2 separate regions of the Homo sapiens genome follow, and region 1 is reported to be linked to region 2. Evidence: microRNA targets listed by miRTarBase, many of them from high-throughput screens and not tested one by one. Region 2 holds a microRNA gene; the other region holds the end of a gene's coding sequence.
What was found. Region 2 holds the annotated microRNA hsa-miR-8060 (CCAUGAAGCAGUGGGUAGGAGGAC, at 1,055-1,078, opposite strand). A microRNA usually pairs through its seed, bases 2 to 8, with sites in the 3' UTR of a target mRNA and lowers its output. Matches are read on the target gene's strand: a 7mer-m8 pairs with bases 2 to 8, a 7mer-A1 pairs with bases 2 to 7 and ends in A, and an 8mer does both.

Region 1: the mRNA of TBC1D13 is a reported target of hsa-miR-8060. Seed matches in the 3' UTR shown: 8mer at 1,752-1,759.

Annotation. Positions count from the first base shown.
Region 1 is chr9:128,807,325-128,810,324 of GRCh38, reverse strand. TBC1D13 (TBC1 domain family member 13) reads right to left here. Exons shown (of 12, transcript NM_018201.5): 12 at 1-2,511. The coding sequence ends at 2,446. Among named protein-coding and RNA genes, the nearest start is that of ENDOG, 9.7 kb to the left of the region's middle.
Region 2 is chr3:96,357,559-96,361,083 of GRCh38, reverse strand. It overlaps MIR8060 (microRNA 8060), which reads right to left and starts at 1,120; the gene lies at 1,045-1,120.

The DNA.
Region 1 (3,000 bases), not on the chromosome of region 2:
GAGTGAGACCCGCTGAATTCATACAGCTCAATCTGTAAGTGTCCAAGATCCAGGGGGCAGGTTCTCAAGCAGGAAGCCTCAGGCACTCTGGCTCTGTGGGGACCTCCCTTGGGCATCTGCTTGAGAATCTGGGGAAGGGACATTATCAGGGCAGGTCCTTTCTGCAGGCGGTGTCCTGCTGGGAGCTCAGCCTAACCAAGGCCTGGTCCCTGTGCTCTTGACCTTCATCTCAAGGTCAAGGAGAGGGCACTTGACCCAACTCTGCCAGCGAGGCAAAGTAATGGTGATTCAAGTAGTGTGGTTCCAGGAGGGAAGGTAGGGGGCAGACAAGAGTGAGTGCACTAAAGAGTCCTGGGCAGTGTCTGCTGGGTCCCAGGCAGTGGCCCAAGCTTATGAAGGGGTTGGAGAAGGGGCTGAACCACCAGCTGACAAGTCCTGGAGAGAGGGTGGCCCAGGTGAGCAGGAAGCATCATGCCTCTGCCTCATCCTGGAGGTCCTGGAGTCAGCCCAGTTCTCTTCCCATCTTTACACTCAATTCCAGTACAGAACTCAGAGCCCGCTCAGCCAGGACCTGCTCGAAAACCAGGCAGTTCCTAGAAGCATGGGGAGAAGAGGCTGACTTTGATCTTGGAAAATGAAGAGGATCTTGTCTCCAACTCCTTTCTCCCTTCCTATACCCATGCCTCATCCCCAGAGCACTTGCCAATGTGCAATACATAGCCAGGAGTCTGAATAAATAGTCAAAGTCTCCCAAATACTGTGCTCTGGGAGAGGAGACAGGCAGGTGCGGAAATCCAGGCGGCATCAAAGGAAAAGCCTGGTAGAAGAGCCACCTGGGGAAGCCTTTCCTGGCCCAAAGCCGGGCTTGGAAGGGCAGCGAGAAGTCCTGCCCACCAGACTCGGAAAGCTTTGGGGGCAGGAGGGCTGCTGGGGCCTGACTCCTGCCAGCCAGTCTGGAGGACGAGGGTCCTCACTATGGCACCCGGCTTCCGGACGCAAACCTTGTACAAGGAGGGAGGTGACTTGGTGAGAACTGGGAGTGGCCAGCTGCCCCTGCTCAGGGTACACCTGCTCCAGCCCTGGGAACAGCTCAGGCAGGGGTCAGAGAAGGCCCTGCACCTCCCTCAGCCCGCAGCGGGTGGAGGGGTACACAGAGGCACAGACATGGCCCTCCTGGAACTGGCAGGACCCAGGGCCTTTAAGCTCAGCTACCCCTGGCCCCAGAGAGGCTTCCTCGGGCCCCACTTGCCCTTTGTGGGACTCACTCAACCCAACCCTGGGTTGGGACCTGGAAGCCGAGGGAATGACAACTCTTCTGAAGCAATGGGTTCCGACCCTGGGCTCAGAATCAAGGTCCTTTTCTTTTCGGACAGGAGGGCCTCTGGGGGAACCTCCAGAAAAACCAGCTCCCCCTCTTCCTTCTCCCTCCCTGGGCAGAAAGCAGGGGCAGGAGGCTCAAAGCTTCATCCTTACTCAGCAGCATTTGGTTTCCAAGATTTCTGTGTAGGGAACGGGTTCAGAACCCTCTAAGTGAGGCACGGAGGACTCCCTCCCAGTTGGGAGGACCTAGGAGCCAGGGCTGGGGGATGGGAACAGGAGGCAAAGGCCAAGCTTGACCTCCAGGGGCCTTGCTGAGCCAGTCTCCTCATCTGTCTCCCAGGTTCAGGGGAGCAGAGGCAAGCGGGGAGAGGAGGTGGCTCAGGATAAGGCACCCCAACAGAGAAGGGCAGGGAGAGTAATGGAGAGAGGAATCATGAAGCAAGACACAGTCCCACTCTGGGAAGGAGGTGGAAGGAGACAGGCAGAGAGGTAGAGACAGAGAAGGAGGGGCTGGGAGACCTGGAGGCCTGAGAGACCCTCACTCCCTAACACACACACACACACACACACACACACACACACACACACACACACACGGAGAAGATGCCTGGGGACTTGGGCCCACATTCACACCGACCGACTACAGACATCTGTGGGTGAGACAGACGGCAGGACTCAGCTTTCAGTGTCGCCTTCCCTGTGGAGCAGCCGAAGTGCCCCGCTCAGAAGCGGTTTCTGGCCCATTGGCCAAGCACCTCCCCTGAGTGGAGCCCAGGAGAAGACCAGAAGCAGGAACTGAGGCTGGGGCGGCAGAGCCGAGGCAGGGAGGGGCCCCTGCCAGCCTCCCAGTGCCAGAAACGGCCCTGGCCCAGGAAGGACAACTTCCCGAGCTCCAGCCCTCCTCAGTATCCTGGGCAAAGAGGGCAGAGTGCAGGGCAGGTGGGGAGCTGGGCGTGGCGGCAGAAGGAGCACGGCACAGTGTGTCCCCAGTGGGCATGGCCTGGGTCTCGGGCCGATCCTGTGGCTTCCCCTCAGGCTGGGTTCCTACAGGTTTCTATGTGTCCCGGGAGCCAGGGCACAGGGTCGGGAGGCTTCTCTCCGGAACATGGGCCTCTTGCCGCCGGGCTACTTTGAGTCTTGGAGCTCCTTGGCTTTCTGCAGGATCTGGCAGACATCTGTGATGGGGTAGTCCTGGGCACAGGAAAAGGCCAACAGTTGCCTCTGAAGCCACTTCACCCCTGCCACACCCACACCCTCCCTGCTGGGACCCGTTGCCATGCTGGATCCTGGGCCTCAGGGGCAGGAGCACAGAACACCAGGCATCCCACACTCCCCAACCCCCAGACCCCTGCATGCAGCTGACGCTACACCATGCAGCACCAACTCAACGATCCAAACACAACCACTCCCAGGCTCTTGCGGCCCTTTCCTCAGGACCAGACCGTGCTGCCTCAGCTCTCCCACTACTGCCACTGAACCCGAGCTCCCTCGTGTGGAGCCAGTAGGACTGGGCCAGTGTCTGAGCATCAGCGCGAAGTCCCAACAGCCCTGTGAGTGGCCACTGTGATTCTGCACTTTTTCCAGATCTGGTCCATGAAGTTAGGGAAAAGCAACTCTAGGCTGGGCTTGGTGGCTCACACCTGTAATCTCAGCACTTTGGGAGGCTGAGGTGGGCGGATC
Region 2 (3,525 bases):
TCAGAAGTTCTGGAGTCTAGGACTCGTAATAGATCTCTAGTGGGGGGCATACATCAGGACTGAACTCTCAATCTGAGGGATCTGATCCTATCTCTAGCTAGTGTTGGAACTGAATTGTAGAACACCCAGTTAATGTCCGCTGCAGAATTTATTGCTTGCTTGGTGGTGAGGAGAACCCCACCCACCTACATTTTATAACAGCAGTCTTCTGTGTTGATGATTGCTGTGGTCTGAAAGCAGACCAAAAACCAAAAGATTAAAAAAAAAAAGTCAACTTAGTTAAATTAGTAGTGAAATGTTCTAGGCATAAGCTTTGCTGCATAGCTCCAATACAGTATTAGCCACAGAACAAATTGTGTGCATAATTTGAAATGTGCATGTAAAGGGCAGCCATATTTTTGTATACTGGGAATGTTGGAACAGGGTGCTGTGAAGCTTCTACTGCTTGTGCACATTGTCACTGATCTGCTGGCTTATTGGTTGTTGTGAAAAAGCAGCTCACCTTAGAGTTCTTCCAGTTCTCACTGATTATACTCCTTCAGCTTTTCTAAGTCCTTGGCCAGAGCATGCAACACTGCAGCATTAGTAGCCAGGCTCTCAATTTCTCCGTGTTTTGTTGCATCCCTTCCTTGAGTTTCTTTGGATCCTGGTTCAAGTCTGTGCTTATCTCTGTGAGGAAAGCTTCTCCTGAAGTTCATCTGCAACATAGGGATGAAGGCAAGGAGGCAATGAGAGGCTGACCCAATTTTCGGCTCCTCCTTGAAGGTTCCATTTCTCTTTGCTCCCCCTGCCTCACTTTACGTTCACCATTCCTTCACAACCATTGGCTTTGCCAACCTCAAGCCCAGTAGCTGAGGAAGAAGCAATGATTGTATATAATCTGCGCACCTAGCCCCAACATTTTTTTAAGGTAACATCTCCATAGTTAATTTATTTTGTATTATTTATCATTATTCCATTTCAGTAATCAAATTCTCACGGGTAAACTATGAATTTCGAATATGAGGTTACCTAGTCACACATGTATTTCTAGTGGCCGTATGAGCTTTTTCCTGTCCTCCTACCCACTGCTTCATGGGATATCTGACCAGAATAGTAAGTGGGAAAAACAGGATTTAAACCTATGCTATATTGATTTATATGCACTTATGCTTTTATTTTTACTTTTATTTTACTTTTTCAAACTTTTATTTTAGATTCAGGGGTACCATACAGGTTTGTTTTATAGGTAAACTGTGTCACAGGGGTTTGTTGTACACATTATTTCATTACCAGGTACGAAGCCTAGTACTCAATAGTTATTTTCTCTGTTCCTCTCCTTGCTCCCACCTTCCACCCTCTGGCAGGTCTCTGTTGTTCCTCTCTTTGTGTTCATGCTCATTATTTAGCTCCTACTTGTAAATAAGAAATGTGATATTTGGTTTTCTGTTCCTGCATTAATTTGCTCAGGATAATGGCCTCTAGCTCCATCCATGTTCCTGCAAAGGACATGATCTCATTCTTTTTATGGCTACATAGTATTCCATGGTATATATGTACAACATTTTATTTATCCAGTCTACCATTGATAGGCATTTAGGTTGATTCCATGTCATTGCTATTCTGAACAGTGCTGCAATGAACATACACGTATGTGTGTGTCTTTATACAGAACAATTTATATTACTTTGGGCATATATACAGTAACAAGTTTGCTGTCAATTCTTAGTCCCTTTTTTGGCTCTTTGACGAATTGCCTTACTGCTTTCCACAATGACTGAACTAATTTGCACTCCTTCCAAAAATGTATGAGCATTCCCTTTTCTCCACAATCTTGCCAGCATCTGTTATTTTTTGACTTTTGGGTAATAGCCATTTTGACTAGTGTGGGATGGTATCTCACAGTTTTTATTTGCATTTCTCTAATGATCAGTGATATTGAGAACTTTTTCACAGGCTTGGTTGGCTGCATTTGTGTCTTTGGAAAATGTCTGTTCATGTCTCTCGCCCACTTTTTAATGGGGTTGTTTGCTTTTTTTCTTGTAAATTTCTTTAAATTCCTTACAGATGTTGGATATTAGACCTTTGTCAAATGCGTAGTTTGCAGTTATTTCTCTCATTCTGTAGGTTTTCTGTTTATTCTGTTGATAGTTGCTTTTGATGTGCAGAAGCTCTTTAGTTTAATTAGGGCCCATCTGTCAATCTTTGTTTTTATTGCAATTGCTTTTAGCATCATCATCCTAATATTTTTGTTGGAGCTTTTGTCAAGAATGATATTTCCTAGGTTATCTTCCAATGTTTTTATAATTTTAGGATTTACATTTAAGTCTTTAATCCTTCTTAAGTTGATTTTTGCTTATAGTGTGAGGAAGGGATCCAGTTTCAATCTTCTGCATATGGCTAGCCAGTTCTCCCAGCACCATTTATTGAATAGGGAATTCTTGCCTTATTGCTTGTTTTTTATCAGGTTTGTTGAAGATCAGGTAGTCTAGGTTTTGAGGGAAACTACCTCAAAATAATAAGAGCTATCTTTGACAAATCCAACATCATACTAAATGGACAAAAGCTGGAAGCATTCCGCTTGAACATGGGCACAAGACAAGGATGTCCTCCCACCTCATTCCTATTCAACATAGTATTGGAAGTTCTGGACACAACAGTTAGGCAAGAGAAAGAAATAAAGGGGTATCTAAATAAGATAAGAGGAAGTCAAAGTATCCCTGTTTGCAGACAACAGAATTCTATATCTAGGAAACTCTATAGTATTGGTCCAAAAGCTTCTTCAACTGATAAACAACTTCATCAAATTTCAGGATACAAAATCAACATATAAAAATCACTAGCATTACTATACACCAACAACAGTCAAGCCAAAAGCCAAATCTGGAATGCAATTCCATTCACAAATGCCACAAAAATAATCAAATCTACAATGAGAATTACAAAACACTGCTCAAAGAAATCAGAGATGACACAAACAAATGGAAAAACATTCCATGCTCATGGGTTGGAATAATCAATATTGTTGAAATGGCCATACTGCCCAAAGCAATTTATAGATTTAATGCTATTCCTATCAAATTACCAATAATGTTCTTTACAGAGCTAGTAAAAAACTATTTTAAAATTTGTATGGAACAAAAAAAGACCTGGAATAGTGAAGGCAATCCTAAGCAAAAAGAATAAAGCTAGAGGCATCATGCTACCTGACTTCAAGAGGGCTACAGTAACCAAAACGGGATGGTATTGGTACAAAAACACACACATAGACCAATGGAACATAATAGAGAGCCCAGAAGTCAGGCCACACACATACAACCATCTGATCTATGACAAAGCTGTCAAAAACAAGCAATGGCGAAAGGACTCCCTGTTGAATGAATGTGCTGGGATAACTGGCTAGCCATGTGCAGAAGATTGAAACTGGACCCCTTCCTTACACCCTACACAAAAATCAACTTAAGATGGATTAAAGACTTAAATGTAAATCCTAAAATTATAAAAACACCGGAATATAACCTAGAAAATACCATTCTGAACAAAAGC